2 separate regions of the Homo sapiens genome follow, and region 1 is linked to region 2. The links come from fine-mapping of genetic effects on gene expression. Tissue or cell type: whole blood. Region 2 holds a variant in brackets; the other region holds the start of a gene. All regions are shown on one strand. Distances are from middle to middle.

Region 1 (8,178 bases), 61 kb before region 2:
GGGTTCAAGCGATTCTCCCGCCTCAGCCTCCTGAGTTGCTGGGACAACAGGCACACGCCACCATGCCCGGCTAATTTTTGTATTTTTAGTAGAGACGGGGTTTCACCATGTTGGCCAGGCTGGTTTCAAACTCCTGACCTCAGGTGATCCACCTGCCTCAGCCTCCCAAAGTGCTGAGATTACAAACATGAGCCACTGCTCCCAGCCTCAAATGCTAAATGCTAAATTATGATTAGCGTTTAATGACAATAAATATATGTGACCTTTTTCACATCCAAGATATCAGATACTCTGAATTCTAGCCAGACACTACCCAGGCACTCTGGGTTCAAAATCCCTGATCAAGAAGAAAGCAGAGGCTGGTACAAGTTTAGCAAATTTTGTCTCAGGGTTGGATGGTAGCCATCAAAAGGGCTCAGGGACCAGACGTCCTGGCTTCTGCCTGCAGTCCCAGCTACTTGGGAGGCTGAGGCGGTCAGATTATTTGAGCCCAGGAGTTCAAGGTTACTCTAAGCTATGATTGCATCACTGCATTCCAGCCTGGGTGACAGAGCAAGACCCTGCCAAAAAAAAAAAAGTGATTAGGGAGACCGGAGATTTTCACCAGTGTACTCCCAAGTTCTGCTTTGTATTTTAAGGAGGTTACTTTAAAAGTATACAATACAGGAGAGCACCGGTTGGAAAGGGCAAGAAATGTTTAGCACTTCCCTCAAGGGACTGGGGGTTGGGAGGGCGGATAAACTTCCTTTAATTTTAGGGATGGAAAAAAGCTTGTTGATTTGCATTGCCTTGGCTTGTGACTGCCATCTTTTCATATGTTTATCTGCTTGCATTTCCTTTGTGGTGTATTACCTTTTCAACACTGGCAGCCTGTTCTTATCGGCGGGGTGGGGCGGCGGCGGGGGGTCGGTGTGTGTGTTTTTCTGAATTTGCTGGGGGGATTATGGACTTCTCTTTTCTTCTTTTTTTTTTTTTTAAATAAGAACAATTACTAGTCCCTCACCTCAGTCTCTATTATCTGACCTCTGAGGCCACCCAAAGTTTGGTGTGGTATCTCTCACAACGTACAGGTGACTTTTGTGTTTTTGCTTTTTTTTTTGAGATCTCACTCTCGCCCAGCGTGGCAAGCAGTGGTGTGATCACTGTTCGCTGGTCACAAACTCCAGGGACCAAGTGATCCTCTCACCTCAGTCTCCTGAGGAGCTGGTATTACAGGCATGCTACCATACCAAGATAAAGTGCCTGGTTTTTATGGGTGCATGGGAGGACAATAAAGGAGAATGCCAACTTCGACTTCTAGTTAGTACGTCTCTCTCCTTGGGTATGGGGACATTTACTTTTTTTTAATAGCTTTATACTTTTAACACTATTTTCTTTTTTTCAATAGGCCATTTGTAATCTTCCAGTTATATATGCACACCTCACTCTTCTATGTGTGACATGCCATATTTTGAACATATTTTGGTTCAATAAGTAATTCCCTCAGCAGTGGGCATTCAAGTAATTTACAGGGTTTTGTTTTGTTTTGTTTTGTTTTCTTCTGTTTTTGAGACAGAGTCTCACTGTCGCCCAGGCTGAAGTGCAGGTGGCACAATCTCAGCTCACTGCAACCCCCGCTTCCCAGGTTCAAGTGATTCTCCTGCCTCAGCCTCCCGAGTAGCTGGGACTACAAGCGTGCACCACTGCACCCAGCTAATTTTTGTATTTTTAGGGATGGGGCTTCACCATGTTGGCCAGGCTGGTCTCCAGCTCCAGACCTCAGGTGATCCGCCCACCTCGGCCTCCCAAAGTGCTGGGCTGGGTGCGGTGGCTCAAGCCTGTAATCCCAGCACCTTTCGGGGCAGCAGGAGCACTTGAGGCCAGGAATTTGAGACCAGCCTGTGCAACATAGCAAAACCATCTCTAAAAAACTTTTTTAGATAATAAAAAATTTGGAATATATGAGCTTCTTAACCTACTACTAAACAAGATTGAGTAGCAGGACTAAACTATATATATATATATATATATATATATATATATATAATTTATTTTTTTTGAGAGGGCGTCTCACTCTTGCCCAGGCTGGAGTGAAATGGCAGGATCTCGGCTCACTGCAACCTCCACCTCCCAGGTTCAAGCGATTCTCCTGCCTCAGCCTCCCACGTAGCTGGGACTACAGGAGCGTGCCACCATGCCCAGCTAATTTTGGTACTTTTTAGTAGAGATGGGGTTTCGCCATGTTGGCCAGACTGGTCTCGAACTGCTGACCTTAAGTGATCTGGCCTCCTCAACCTCCCAAAGTGCTGGGATTACAGGTGTGAGCCACCACACCTGGCCCTACCTTTTAATCTTGAAGTAGTGAGAATGCAAAACCTGCAACAACTGTTATGTGAAACAAAATGTGGTTTCTAGCGATGACGAACTGTGGGTTCTGCTAATAGCACCAGACTGCAAAAGGGTCCTGACCCACACTAGATTATAAGTAGGGCTCATTTCTTTATCAGACCCAAGGTCATTTCCCTTGTTTCACTCTAAAATACCCCTCCCCAGTCCAGGCGCAGTGACTCACGCCTGTAATCCCATCACTTTAGGAGATGGAGGTGGAAGGATCACCTGAGGTCAGGAGCTCGAGACCACCCTGGCCGAATGGCAAAACCCCGTCTCTACTAAAAATACAAAAATTAGCCGGGTATAATGGCAGGCGCCTGTAATCCCAGCTACTTGGGAGGCTGAGGGAGTAGAATCGCTTGAACCCAGGAGGCGTAGGTTGCAGTGAGCGGAGATGGCACCATTGCACTCCAGCCTGGGCGACAAGAGCGAAACTCCGTCTCAAAAAATGAAATACCCCACCCCAACCCCACCCGCACACTTACCCGCCACTAATCCTACCCCTAATCCACTAAACTACTTACCAAGTCTCAGCAGTTCATCCGCCTCTGTACCTTCGCTGGGAAGACGAACTCCGCAGAGCAGGACTCGGGTCTACTCTAAGCTGTGCCTTGGTGCCTAGAATTCAAGTCAAGTTCATAACACCAAAGTTTAAGGTTTATTTAATGTAGAAAATCACCTTATATTGAAGACTGGGAAAAAAAAGCACTTATCTATGCATGTGTTTGCTTAAAAAGGCACACACAATTAGCAGAGTCTGGGGTGTAAGTCGGGAGAGGGCTGCAGGGAATGGGAGGACCCAGAGGTGGATCTGAGGAGGCCAGGGAGGGGCCGGAGAGAATGGTTTCTTCTTTGTGAGAGTTGGGGTCTATTATTATGGAAGGCACGCTTTCCTTTTGCAATTTGAACAAGAATTCGATTTGCCTAACAATCGGAGGAAATTGAAGAAAATGCAAAAGTTATTACTTCCAAATCAATTTTTCCAGTCACATAATTAAACACTTTTTTTTTTTTTTGAGACGGAGTTTCGCTCTGCCGCCCAGGCTGGAGTGTAGTGGCCCGATCTCGGCTCACTGCAACCTCCGCCTCCCCGGTTCAAGCGATTCTCCTGCCTCGGCCTCCCTAGTAGCTGGGACTACAGGCGCGAGCCAACACACCCGGCTAATTTTGTATTTTTGGTAGAGACGGGGTTTCCCAAGTTGGCCAGGATGGTCTCGATCTCCTGACCTCGTGATCCGCCCCCGCCTCGGCCTCCCAAAGTGCTGGAAAATAACACGCCCGGCCCTCCATCTTTTTTTATTTGAGACAGTTTCGCCCCTGTTGCCCAGTCTGGAGCGCAATGGCGCGATCTCGTCTCAGTGCAACCTCTGCCTCTCGGGTTCAAGCGATTCTCCTGCCTCAGCCTCCTGAGTAGCTAGGATTACAGGCATGCGCCACCACGCCTGGCTAATTTTGTATTTTTAGTAGAGACGAGGTTTCTCCATGTTGGTCAGGATGGTCTCGAACTCCGACCTCAGGTGATCCGCCCGCCTCGGCTTCCCAAAGTGCTGGGATTACAGGCGTGAGCCACTGCTCCCGGCCCCTCCATCCTTTTTCTAAAGCTAGGACTTGTCAAGCACCACCTCATTTTCTTGACTTTATTTTTTCTTCACAGAACTACTTTCATGTTTCCAATTTGGGGATAGATAAGTCTTAGGAGAGTTTTTTTCTCATTGCGCCACGGACAGTAAGGGAAAGAGCAGGGAGTCAAGTGAGGGGGCCAACTGCCTGCCCCTACCCGGGCCCCACGCACGCACCCGGATCAGCCTTGCCTGGGGCACCTCGGGCCTCACGTACCTGGGCCAGCCTTACCCGGGGCACCCCGCGCCCTTCGCGCCTGGACCAGCCTTATCCGGGGCACCCTGGACCTCACGCTCCTGGACCAGCCTTACTTGGGGCGCTGCGGACCCCACGCGCCTAGACCAGCCTTACCCGGGGCACCCCGGACCCCACGCCCCTGGACCAGCCTTACCCGGGGCACCCCGGACCCCACGCGCCTGGCCCAGCCTTACCCGGCGCGCCCCGGACCCCACGCGCCTGGGCCAGCCTTACCCAGGGCACGCCGGGCCCCATGCACCCGGGCCAGCCTTACCTGGCGAAAAAGGAATCCGCCTGGACGACTGAGGAGCGAACAAAGTGAGGATGGAGCCTTGTAACTAAGGACTGAGAGGATTCCCGATCTCTGGGGCTGGCTCCTCCCCTCCTGGTGTGTCCCAACCCCCTCTGTCTACATACCCGCGCCTCCTCCCCGGAAATCGCATTCCGCCCTAAGCAATTGCTGACTTCCATTGCTGCCCCCCGACTGAGTCCAATTCCCTCTGTCTCCACCGTGCCTCCGCTTGAACGAGCCCCACCCCTCAGACCCGACTCCAGACTCAAATCTGAATAAAGGCACCACTAAAGCGCCTCATCACCCAGGCCTGAACCCCAAGGTCACCTCATTCCTTTTCTTCAACCCTCGCAGTTAATCCATTCCTAAGTCCTTGAATTTGCCGGCGTCTCTCCAACTCCACAGCTCCAGCCCAGTCCAAGCCCCCGTTGTCTCTCACCTGGATCACTGAAATCACCTCCAACTGCTCCCTGGCCTCTCCCACGACCCCTCTGTAATCCTTCTCCCCCTCCAATACTGTTCAGTGGCTTCCTGTTTCGGTTAAATTTCTACCTTCTCATTCTATCCGGACTGCCCCTTCAACATTGTCTTAGCACTACTCTTACAACAGAAACACTCTCTTTCTGTTCCTCAAAAAACACGGAACTACCTGCCTCAGGGCCCTTGCACTGGCTGTTTCCTCTGCGAGTTATTTTTTTCTTTTTCTTTCTTTCTTTCTTTCTTTTTTTTTTTTTTTGAGACAGTCTCTGTTGCCACAGCTGGAGTGCAGTGGCATGATCTTGGCTCACTGCAACCCCGGCCTCCTGGGTTCAAGCAATTCTCCTGCCTTAGCCTCCCAAGTAGCTGGGATTACAGGAGCACGCCACCACTCCCGGAAAATTTTTGTATTTTTTTTTTTTCTTTTTGAGACAGAGTTTTCTTATGTCACCCAGGCTGGAGTGCAGTGGCGCAATCTCGGCTCACTGCAACCTCTGCCTCCTGGATTCAAGCGATTTCTCCTGCCTCAGCCTCCTGAGTAGCTGAGATTACAGGCCCATGCCACCACGCCTGGCTAGTTTTTGTATTTTTAGTAGAGGGGGGTTTCACCATGTTGGTCAGGCTGGTCTTGAACTTCTGACCTGGTGATCCGCCCACCTCAGCTTCCCAAAGTGATGGGATTACAGGCGTGCGCCACCACGCCTGGCCACCTCTTTATTTTCCCAGTTCTTTCAGGATGGCTTCTGTTCATCCTCAGGTCTCAGGTCCAATGTTAACTCCTCTAACAGGCCTCCCAGACTACCCTTTCTACAGGAGCCAAACTCCCCATATCCCAATACTCTTTTTTTGTTTTATTTTTGTTTCTTAAGAGAGGGTCTTGCTCTCTAACAGAGACTCAAAGGTTCTGGGTGGTTGGACTCCCCAGGCCTGACTTGCAAGGCTCAGGTGGAACTTGACTTGCCCAAAGTCATGCAGCTAATAAGCAAAGAAGCCTCAATATCTGGTAGTTCAGTCAATACACAGCATATGAATAAACAAAGAGAATTCGGTCTTTTGCTTTTAATCCCTTATTTCTTCTTACTGCCTAAAATCCCAGCACTTTGGGAGGCTGAGGTGGGAGGATCACTTGTTCATAGTTTAAAACAAAGATGATAACAGCCCTTTCCCGAAACAAACCCTGGGGATTTAGACTGCCTTTGCAGTACTAACAAATTAGCCACAGGATTAGAAATTATGGTTTAGGAGTCATGCAGCTGGAGGCTACAAGACTCTGACTCTCCCCAAATGGCTTCTGGGGATAAGACCACTACTGCAAAACCTAAGACCAGGGAGATATTCCACAGATATTTTGCAGATCCTGCACTTGACGGATCAGCTGGTACCACCCAGATCAATAAACTGGCTGATATGATCTTGGTGGCCCCCACCCAGGAATTGATTCAGCGCAAGAAGACAGCTTTGACTCCCTATGATTTCATCTCTGATCTGACCAATCAGCACTCCCAGCTCACTGGCTTCCCCCCTCCCACCAAGTTGTCCTTAAAAACTCTGATCCCTGAATGCTTGGGGAGATTGATTTGAGTAATAAAACTCTGGTCTCCCACACAGCCCACTCTGTGTGAATTACTCTTTCTCTATTGCAATTCCCCTGTCTTGATAAATGGGCTCTGTGTAGGCAGTGGGCAAGGTGAACCCATTGGGCAGTTACAATCACACCACTACACTCCAGCCTGGGTGACAGAGCAAGACCTTGTCTAAAAAAAAAAAAAAAAAAAACTGGGCAAGGTGGCTCAAGCCTGTAATCCCAGCACTTTGGGAGTCCAAGGCAGGTGGATCACCTGAGGTCAGGAGTTTAAGACCTGAGGTAAGCCTGGCCAATATGGTGAAACCCCATCTCTTATAAAAGTACAAATATTAGCCAGGCGTTGTGGTGTGTGCCTGTAATCCCAGCTACTCAGGAGGTTGAGGCAGGCGAATCGCTTGAACCTGGGAAACGGAGGTTGCAGTGAGCTGAGATCGTGCCACTGCACTCCAGCCTGGGTGACAGAGCAAGACCCTGTCTCAAACAAACAAAAAAAACGAAAATTTGAACACTGACTGGATATTTGATGATATTAAGAATAACTGTTGGGCTGGGCGCGGTGGCTCACGCCTGTAATCCCAGCACTTTGGGAGGCCGAGGCGGGGCGGATCACGAGGTCAGGAGATCGAGACCATCCTGGCTAAAACGGTGAAACCCCGTCTCTACTAAAAAATACAAAAAAATTAGCCGGGCGTGGTGGCCGGCGCCTGTAGTCCCAGCTACTCCGGAGGCTGAGGCAGGAGAATGGCGTGATCCCGGGAGGTGGGGCTTGCAGTGAGCCGAGATCATGACACTGCACTCCGGCGTGGGCGACAGAGCGAGACTCCGTCTCGAAAAAGAAAAAGAATAACTGTTAATTTCAGTGTAATAAGATTACTGTGATTAGATTTTTTAAAGGTTAAAGCCTTCTGTTACTTAAGATCACGTGTTCTTGGGCTCTCAGTGCAATAGAAATTGACATGAGGCTGAAGGAGTGTTCCCATACAAGGCTTGTTAGAGCTTATGCACAGACATAACGGAGAGGACTACCTGACTAACTCTGCTTTATTAGACAATCAGGGGTAGAGTATGCAGGTTGGGCTGGGCAAAGCACATGAGGGGTAGAGTATGCGGGTCAGCCTTATCTGGTTTTGATGGCTTTATTGAGTAATGGATCACCCACCTGGTGGTCTGGCGAACAGCAACAAGGCTGTAAATCAATTGTTCAGCATTTCTTCCTGAGGTGGGACACTCCACAACCTTAGTTTAATATTTAGATTTCCTAAAGCCAGTTCCCGGAATTCTTTTAAGTAAAAGGCAAGGTTAAACATTATGGGCGGGGTGCGGTGGCTCACGCCTGTAATCCCAGCACTTTGGGAGGCGGAGGCGGGCAGATCACGAGCTCAGAAGATCGAGAACATCCTGGTTAACACGGTGAAACCCCGTCTCTACTAAAAATATAAAAAAATTAGCCAGGCTTGGTGGCTGGCCCCTGTAGTCCCAGCTACTCAGGAAGCCGAGGCAGGAGAATGGCATAGAACCCGTAAGAGCCAAGATTGCACCACTGCACTCCAGCCTGGGCGACAGAGCAAGACTCCATCTCAAAAAAAAAAAAAATTAT
Region 2 (8,178 bases):
GTTACTAGAACTTCCTAAGTCGCCAAATGGTTGTGTTTACTTAAAGTCTCACTAGGCATTTAATGAACTACTTGGTTTCCCCTCATCCTCCCCAACTCTTATGATCAAATATTTAGTAATTGCCGACCTGAGGTGGAGGAGACCCCTGGTCTGAAGGAAGAGAAGGAACTCTCCCAACCCAAAGAGGGGGAGGCCACAGACCTGAAGAAAGAGGTGGAGAAAATCTCCTCATCCGAGGAAGAGGAGACTGTGAACCTGAAGGAAGAGGTGGAGAAAATCCCCCCACCTGAGGAGGAGACTATGGACCTGAAGGAAGAGAAGGAGGAGATCCCCCCACCTGAGGTGAGGGAGGCCACTGGCCTGAAGAAAAAGCAGGAAGAAATCCTCCCACCAGAGGACGGGGAGGCTGCAGCCTTGTCCTCTGCGCCTACGGAACAGTTAGAGACGTTTGCATCTGTGGAAGAACAGACAAGCCTGCTTCCCTCTCAATCTGTGTTCCCCCCACAAACTGCTATCCCCCCTCATTCTGTGTTCCCCCCTCCAGAGGTATTTCCCCCTCAGGCCTCTGTCCCCCCTCACTCTGTGTCCCCCCCTCCGGAGGCATTTCCCCCTCAGGCCTCTGTCCCCCCTCACTCTGTGTTCCCCCCTCCAGAGGCATTTCCCCCTCAGACTGCTGTGCCCCCTCACTCTGTGTTCCCCCCTCCAGAGGCATTTCCCCCTCAGGCTGCTGTGCCCCCTCACTCTGTGTTCCCCCCTCCAGAGGCATTTACCCCTCAGGCTGCTGTTCCCCCTCATTCTATGTTCCCCCCTCCGACGAAACTCACTTATTCCATGTTTCCTTCTGCCAATGGGTTTCCCCCTCACTGTTTCTCCAACAGGGTTCTCCCTCTGATGTGAATTTCCTTAATTTGTGCCACCTTCCCCACTGTTTTCCTTTAAGAAGATATTTATTTTCATGTACTCTCTTGTGCTTTGCCTCCATGTTGCATTTAATAACTTAGGGTAAAAGGAACATTAAACTTAATTAGAACTATATGTTCTACAGTGAAATATTGTGTATTTATTAAGCTTTCGAAATGAGTAATAAAGTAGAGGTCTTTACTGCATGGACCTAGGTTGAGTATCTTTCTTTAAAAACAGGTTTAGGTATTATGTTTTGGAGAATTGAGAAGTCAAAATAATTTCCAGATAAGAAAGATATTACAATGCATAAAAGCTTGAGCTCCTTGCTTAGAACTCTCCTAAAGGTTCCTGCGAAAGAAGATGATTAGCCCTTAGACTTATTAGGACCCAAGCCTTTCAGTACCAAATCTGAAATTTAGCACTGGCTGGGTGTGGCGGCTCATGCCTGTAATCCCAGCACTTTGGGAGGCTGAGGTTGGAGGATTGCTTGAGCCTGGCAGATCAAGGCTGCTGTGAGCCATGATTGTGCCACTGCACTCCAGCCTGGGGGACAGAGTGAGACCCTGTCTCAAAAAAACAACACACCACACACACACACAGACACACACACACACACACACACACACAGACACACACACACACACGCAAAACATAAAAATCCTCAGCACTTACATGCAGCTGGACCCTCAAACTATGGGTGCACACATGTTGAAAACAAACAGGAAGGCTGTAAAGTTAAGGTGATCCCTGAGAAAGCTGGCATCTTAAGATGGGGACACATTACAGAAAAACACACACACACACACACACACACAAGAAAAGCCCATGCCTGGCCTTTGGTGTAACTTACTGAAATAGAAAGCACAGCTGCTTAAAGTTTTTGTCCAGAATCTAGTGACCCTGATTTTAGTGACACCAGAATATATTGATTTTTATGTGTCTGTTAAAAATTTAATGATCGGGCTGGGCGTGGCGGCTCACACCTGTAATCCCAGCACTTTGGGAGGCCGAGATGGGCGGATCACTTGAGGTCAGGAGTTCAAAACCAGCCTGACCAACATGGAGAAACCCCATCTCTACAAAAAACACAAAATTAGCCGGGCGTGGCGGTGTGAGCCTGTAATCCCAGCTCAGCTACTCAGGAGGCTGAGGCAGGAGAATTGCTTAAACCCAGGAGGCAGAGGTTGCAGTGAGCTGAGATTGCACCATTGCATTCCAGTCTGGGTAACAAGAGCGAAACTCTGTCTCAAAAAAAAAAAAAAAAAAAAAAAAAAAAATCTAATGGTCTGAAGAAGTGTGAAGCACTTGGAGTAAAATTCGAAAAGGGCAAACTGACTTCCAGCCACATTGCCACCTAGTGGCACACACCTCAAATGCCACCTGGAAAACCACTCCACTTCCAGGATTTTATAAAGGAATTTTAGTATCCTCTAACTTCAAGCCTATGTTAGTACAATGAAAGTAATAAGATACCACTTAGTATTTATCATTTGCAACATCCTGTATTTATTAGACACTTTACATCACACTTCATCTAATCCTCAGAGCAACCTTTTTAAGAAAGGAGCTCCACAGTCCCTGTTTTAGAGGAATAGAAGGTGAGACTTTAGTAAAAGGATTCAAACTCACGACTTTCTGACACTACAGCCTACCTCTCCTACCTAACTTGGGCTAGGTGTTCATTTCAACTTTCAAACCTTGGGTCTTTGTCCTTTTCCTGCAGTTTATCACTGTCTTCATGGCATTAATTTGGCTTTTTTTTTTTTTTTTTTTTTTTGAGACGGAGTCTCGCTCTGTCACCCAGGATGGAGTGCAGTGGCGCGATCTCATCTCATTGCAACCTCTGCCTCCCGAGTTCAAGCAATTCTCCTGCCTCAGCCTCCTGAGTAGCTGGGATTACAGGTATGCATTACCATGCCTGGCTTATTTTTGTATTTTTAGTAGAGGGGGTTTCACCACGTTGGCCAGGCTGGTCTTGAACTCCTGACCTGAAGCGATCCCCCCCACCTCGGCCTCCCAAAGTGCTGGGATTACAGGCGTGAGCCACCACACCTGGCCTAAGCATTAGTTGGCTTTTTATTTGCAAACCCTGGAGACTACTTTTCTTACCCCTGGCTGCATATTAGAATCACCTGAGAAATTTTAAAATCATCTGATGTCCATGCCATATCCCAGAAAAATTAAATCTGAACCTCTGGGGTGGGGCCCAGGAACAGGTATTAAAATCAGTGATTTTATTATGCAACTAAGGTAAAGACCTAATAGCAGATCATTCCTTTAGTGATACTCACATAGGCCATGACGCGCCTGCTCTGCACCCTCAATGACACACCTTTTCCATTTCCAACCCTGGGTAAGCCATCCGTCTTCCTCCCCTCCTGGAATTTTTCTGGACTACA[T/A]TGGTAACTGTGCTGATTTGTTCCCCTATTAGTTCATGTCCTTCAGCTTGATTGGAATGGCTCAGCAACTCCATGTGGGCAGCACTGAGGAGGTATCTGCTCTGGGCGAGGCCTGCGCCCGAGGCACAGACACAGATTTCTCCAGCTTTGGAGAACCATGGTCTGGAAGGACATCAACACCCAGGCACTCCCTATTCTTCGATGGAGAGTTTCTAAACAAAGGATTTTCCAATATTTATAAAGAAAAGAGGCCGGGCGTGGTGGCTCACACCAGTAATCCCAGCACTTTGGGAGGCTGAGGCGGGCGGATCACCTAAGGTCAGGAGTTTGAGACCAGGCTGACCAACATGGTGAAACCCCGTCTCTACTAAAAATACAAAATTAGCTGGGCGTGGTGGCACATGCCTGTAATCCCAGCTACTCGGGAGGCTGAGGCAGGAGAATCGCTTGAACCTGGGAGATGGAAGTTGCAGCGAGCCAGGATCACGCCATTGCACTCCAGCCTGGGCAACAAGAGCAAAACTCAGTCTCAAAAAGTAAAAAGAAAAAAAAAAAAAAAAAAAGAGAGGGCTGGGTGCGATGGCTCACACCTGTAATCCCAGCACTTTGGGAGGCTGAGGTGGGACAGTCTCTTGAGTGCAGGCCAATAATGAGACCTTGTCTCTCTCTTAAAAAAAAAAAAAAAAAAAGACGAGAGTACGGTGAGAAGGGTGTTTCAGATGAAGAGAATAACGTGGGGAGACCTTTTTCATCCCTAAATAATGCTCTACTCCACTGGGTCTGAGGCATGGGATCTGAATTAGCAGCATCACCAATACCTAGGAGCTTGTTAGAAGAAATGCAAAATTGGCTGGGCACGGTGGCTCACACCTGTAATCTCAGCACTGTGGGAGGCCAAGGCAGGCGGATCACCTGAGGTCAGGAGTTTGAGACCAGCCTGGCCAACATGGTGAAACCCTGTCTCTACTAAAATACAAAAATTAGCCGGGCATGGTGGTGGGTGCCTGTGGTCCCAGCTACTGGGGAGGCTGATGCAGGAGAATTGCTTGAACCCAGGAGGTGGAGGCTCAGTGGAGCCGAGATTGTGCCACTGCACTCCAGCCTGGGCTTCAGAGCGCAACTCTGTCTCAAAAAAAAAAAAAAAAAAAGCAAATTCTTGAATCCCACTCCACTCCTGCAAAATCAGAAAGGCTGGGGGAGCCCTCCAGGTGTTTCCAGAGCGTGCTAAAGTTTGAGAAGCACCATTCTACTCAAATCTGTTTAGCTGCTTTTCAAACAGACCTATATTCTTGGTTCTTTTCTATTCTTTTTTCTCGAGACGGTGTCTCACTCTCGACTAGGCTGGACAGCAGTGGTGCAATCTCGGCTACTGCAACCTCTACTCTCCGGGTTCAAGCTGTTCTCCTGCCTCAGCCTCCCAAGTAGCTGGGACTACAGGCATGTGCCAACACACCCGGCTAATTTTTGTATTTTCAGTAGAGATGGGATTTCACCATGTTGGCCAGGCTGGTCTCAAACTCCTGACCTCAGGTGATCCACCTGCCTTGGCCTCCCAAAATGCTGGGATTACAGGTATGAGCCACCACGCCTGGCCATATTCTATTTTTTCTAAATATTTCTTTTTTGTGTGTACATAATAAAAAATGAAATAGTACAGTACATGATAAAAAAAATTCAACACTTGCCCTCCCTAGAAGCACATTGAACTTTTCTCTTTTTAATTCTAAAGAATAAGCTAAATAATATTCTTATATGCCTATTTTGAAATGTACTATCTTGGTGTCCACTGACTCCCTACTCTAAGAGATGAAAATTTAGCTCGCCAAACTCTTCCACTTAACTGTTACATCATTTCTAAGTTCTACTTGTTTCCTGTGTTTTAAAAATCTACTCAATCCTCTGTAGTTCTAATACTTTCCAACAACTTTTTACCTCAATTAAAAAAAAATCACACCTATTCACTTACTTATGTAATTTTTTTTTTTTAATTTTGAGACAGGGTCTCACTGTCATCCAGGCCGGAGTGCAGTGGCACGATCTTGGCTCACTGCAACCTCTGCCCCCCGGGCTCAAGCAATCCTCCCACCCCAGCCTCGCCAGTAGCTGGGACTACAAGTGCATGCCACTATGCACGACTAATTTTTGTATTTTTTTGTAGAGACGGGGTCTCACCATGTTGCCCAAGCTGGTCTCAAACTTCTGGGCTCAAGCGATCTGCCAGCCTCGACCTCCCAAATTGCTGGGATTATAGGTGTGAACCACTGCACCCGGCCCATTTATATAATTTAAAAAGTCAAAATGATTCTATAGTATTTAATGAAAGAGTCCTTGCTCCTTTACCCCCATTACAGATTCTTACTCCCTAAAAGCAACTACTTTCAGCTGTTTCTCCTAGTATTTGCTTCCATATTCACGTTGCCCAGGCCAGAATGCAGTGGCGAGATCTTGGCTCACTACAACCTCTGCCCCTGGGGTTCAAGCGATTCTCCCGCCTCAGCCTCCTGAGCAGCCAGGATTACAGAGGTGCACCGCCAATCCGGCTACTTTTTTGTATTTTTAGTAGAGACAAGGTTTCTCTATGTTGGCCAGGCTGTGCTTCCATATTCTTAAATAACAGTTTTACTTCTATTTCTTGATTTTAAAATTTTTGATATCTAATCACTTCTTATTGTGGAAGATAAAGATTTAACTCACATTTTCCTTCTACCAAAACACCACAAATCCCCATGCTACTAATAATTCATTCAGCTGGGCGTGGTGGCTCATGCCTGTACTCCCAGAACTTTGGGAGGCCAAGGCGGGCAGATCACTTGAGGTCAGGAGTTTGAGACCAGCCTGGCCAACATGGTGAAATCCCATCTCTACTGAAAATATAAAATTAGCCAGGTATGGTGGTGCATGCTTGTAGTCCCAGCTACTTGGGAGGCTGAGGCAGGAGACTTGCTTGAACCCGGGAGGGGGAGGTTGCAGTGCACTCCAGCCTAGACAACAGAGCGAGACTCCATCTCAAAAAAAAAAAAATAATAATTCATTCATCCTAATATTTGGTTATATTGGTTTTTATTATTATGACATTATAGTTAAATAATGTTATTATTTACTTATTTAGAGCTGGGATCTCACTCTGTCACCCAAGCTGAGTGCAGTGCTATAATCATAGCTCACTGCAGCCTCAAACTCTTGGGCTCAAGTGATCTTCCTGCCTCATCCTCCGAGCAGCTAGTTTCTATGTGCCTTTTTTTTTTGAGACGGAGTCTGACTCTTGTAGCCCATGCTGGGGTGCAATGGGGTGATCTTGGCTCATTGCAACCTCCGCCTCCTGAGTTCAAGCAATTCTCCTGCCTTAGCCTCCTGAGTAGCTGGGATTACAGGCATGCGCTACCACACCTGGCTAATTGTGTCTTCTTATTTATTTGTGAGGAAGACAGAGCTGAACAAATTATATCCATGTGTGAAAATATCAATAATACTAGATTTTGCTAAGGGAGAGAGACTTTTTTCTGGTCAGTTACCATTTGAAGTAGGATCCTCCTAAGGTCTTTGTAATTCAAGGTCCTGGGCTCAGCACTGAAGAGCTGCACTGTACTGCCTCTAGGGGTCAGCATAACGTGAAGGATGAGCAAGCACAGCCACCCATTTCAGAAAGCAAAGGATTTGTAGGGTGGAGGAAGCAATGCAGTTAACTGTGTAGGTTTCCACTGAAAGTGAGGACCAGGAGTTGAGGGGAAGCAGATTCTATGCCCAGTCCGCACAGTGTTTTGGTTTGTGTTCAATAGAAAATCAGGGACCCAAATAATTTAATAATATTTGGCCTATCACATAAACTCCCTTGAAATTAATGACAGGATTTTCTTTTCTTTCTTTTAAAATTTTAACTTAAAGACTAGTGTGATAGTAAACTGACAGGATTTTCATTATACCCCTCATACATACTGAAAGCCACTTACTTTTTAAATGTCTGGACACTTTGGACTTACACCACAGAGATGTAAAACACCACAAATTGCTTCTCCCAAATGTAATGGTTTTTCTTTTTTTCTTTTGAGACGGAGTCTTGCTCTGTCGCCCAGGATGGAGTGCAGTGGTGCCATCTCGTCTCACTGCAAGCTCTGCCTCCCAGGTTCACGCCATTCTCCTGCCTCAGCCTCCCCAGTAGCTGGGACTATAGGCGCCCGCCACCATGCCCGGCTAATTTTTTGTATTTTTAGTAGAGATGGGGTTTCACCATGTTAGCCAGGATGGTCTCAATCTCTTGACCTCGTGATCCGCCCGCCTCAGCCTCCCAAAGTGCTGGGATTACAGGTGTGAGCCACCGTGCCCAGCAGTTTTTCTTTTTTTCTAATTTTTATTTTTTATTATTAAAATTAAATTTTTATTTTTATTTTTTTTGTAGAGATGGGGTATCATACCATGTTGCCCAGGCTGGTCTCAAAACTCCTGGGCTCAAGCAATTCTCCTGCCTTGGCCTCCCAGAGTGTTGGGATTATAGGCGTGAGCCACTATGCCCAGCTATGTAATGGTTTTTCAATTTGAACTTCCTATATGATTTTTATTTATTTTGAGCCAGGGTCTCACTCTGCTGCCCAGGCAGGAATGCAGTGGCACAATACTGGCTCACTGTAGCCTCCAACTCTTGGGCTCAAGCCATCCTCCTGCTTCAGTCTCTTGAGTAGCTAAGACTACAGGCACACACCACCATGCCGGGCTAACTTTTTAACTTTTTTGTAGAGACGGGATCTTGCTATGGCCTAGGCTGGTCTTGTACTGCTGGCCTCAAGTGATCCTCCTGCTTCAGCCTCCCAAAGTGCTGGGACTATAGGTGTGAGCCACTGCACTCAGCCCAAACTTCTTATTTTAAGGCTAGAATGATGAGTGG

The links. PIP is the estimated chance that this variant, and not a neighbour inherited with it, causes the effect.
Region 1: it holds the start of L1TD1, and the variant in region 2 is fine-mapped to the expression of L1TD1 in whole blood (INTERVAL, PIP above 0.99).

Annotation. Positions count from the first base shown.
Region 1 is chr1:62,191,245-62,199,422 of GRCh38, reverse strand. L1TD1 (LINE1 type transposase domain containing 1) reads right to left here and starts at 4,574. Exons shown (of 4, transcript NM_019079.5): 1 at 4,502-4,574; 2 at 2,895-2,988. RefSeq lists enhancers at 3,719-4,574, 4,575-5,431.
Region 2 is chr1:62,130,018-62,138,195 of GRCh38, reverse strand. All of the region lies in intron 41 of PATJ (PATJ crumbs cell polarity complex component), which reads right to left. Among named protein-coding and RNA genes, the nearest start is that of MIR3116-2, 55 kb to the right of the region's middle. The variant T/A (reference allele first, on the strand shown) is at 3,303.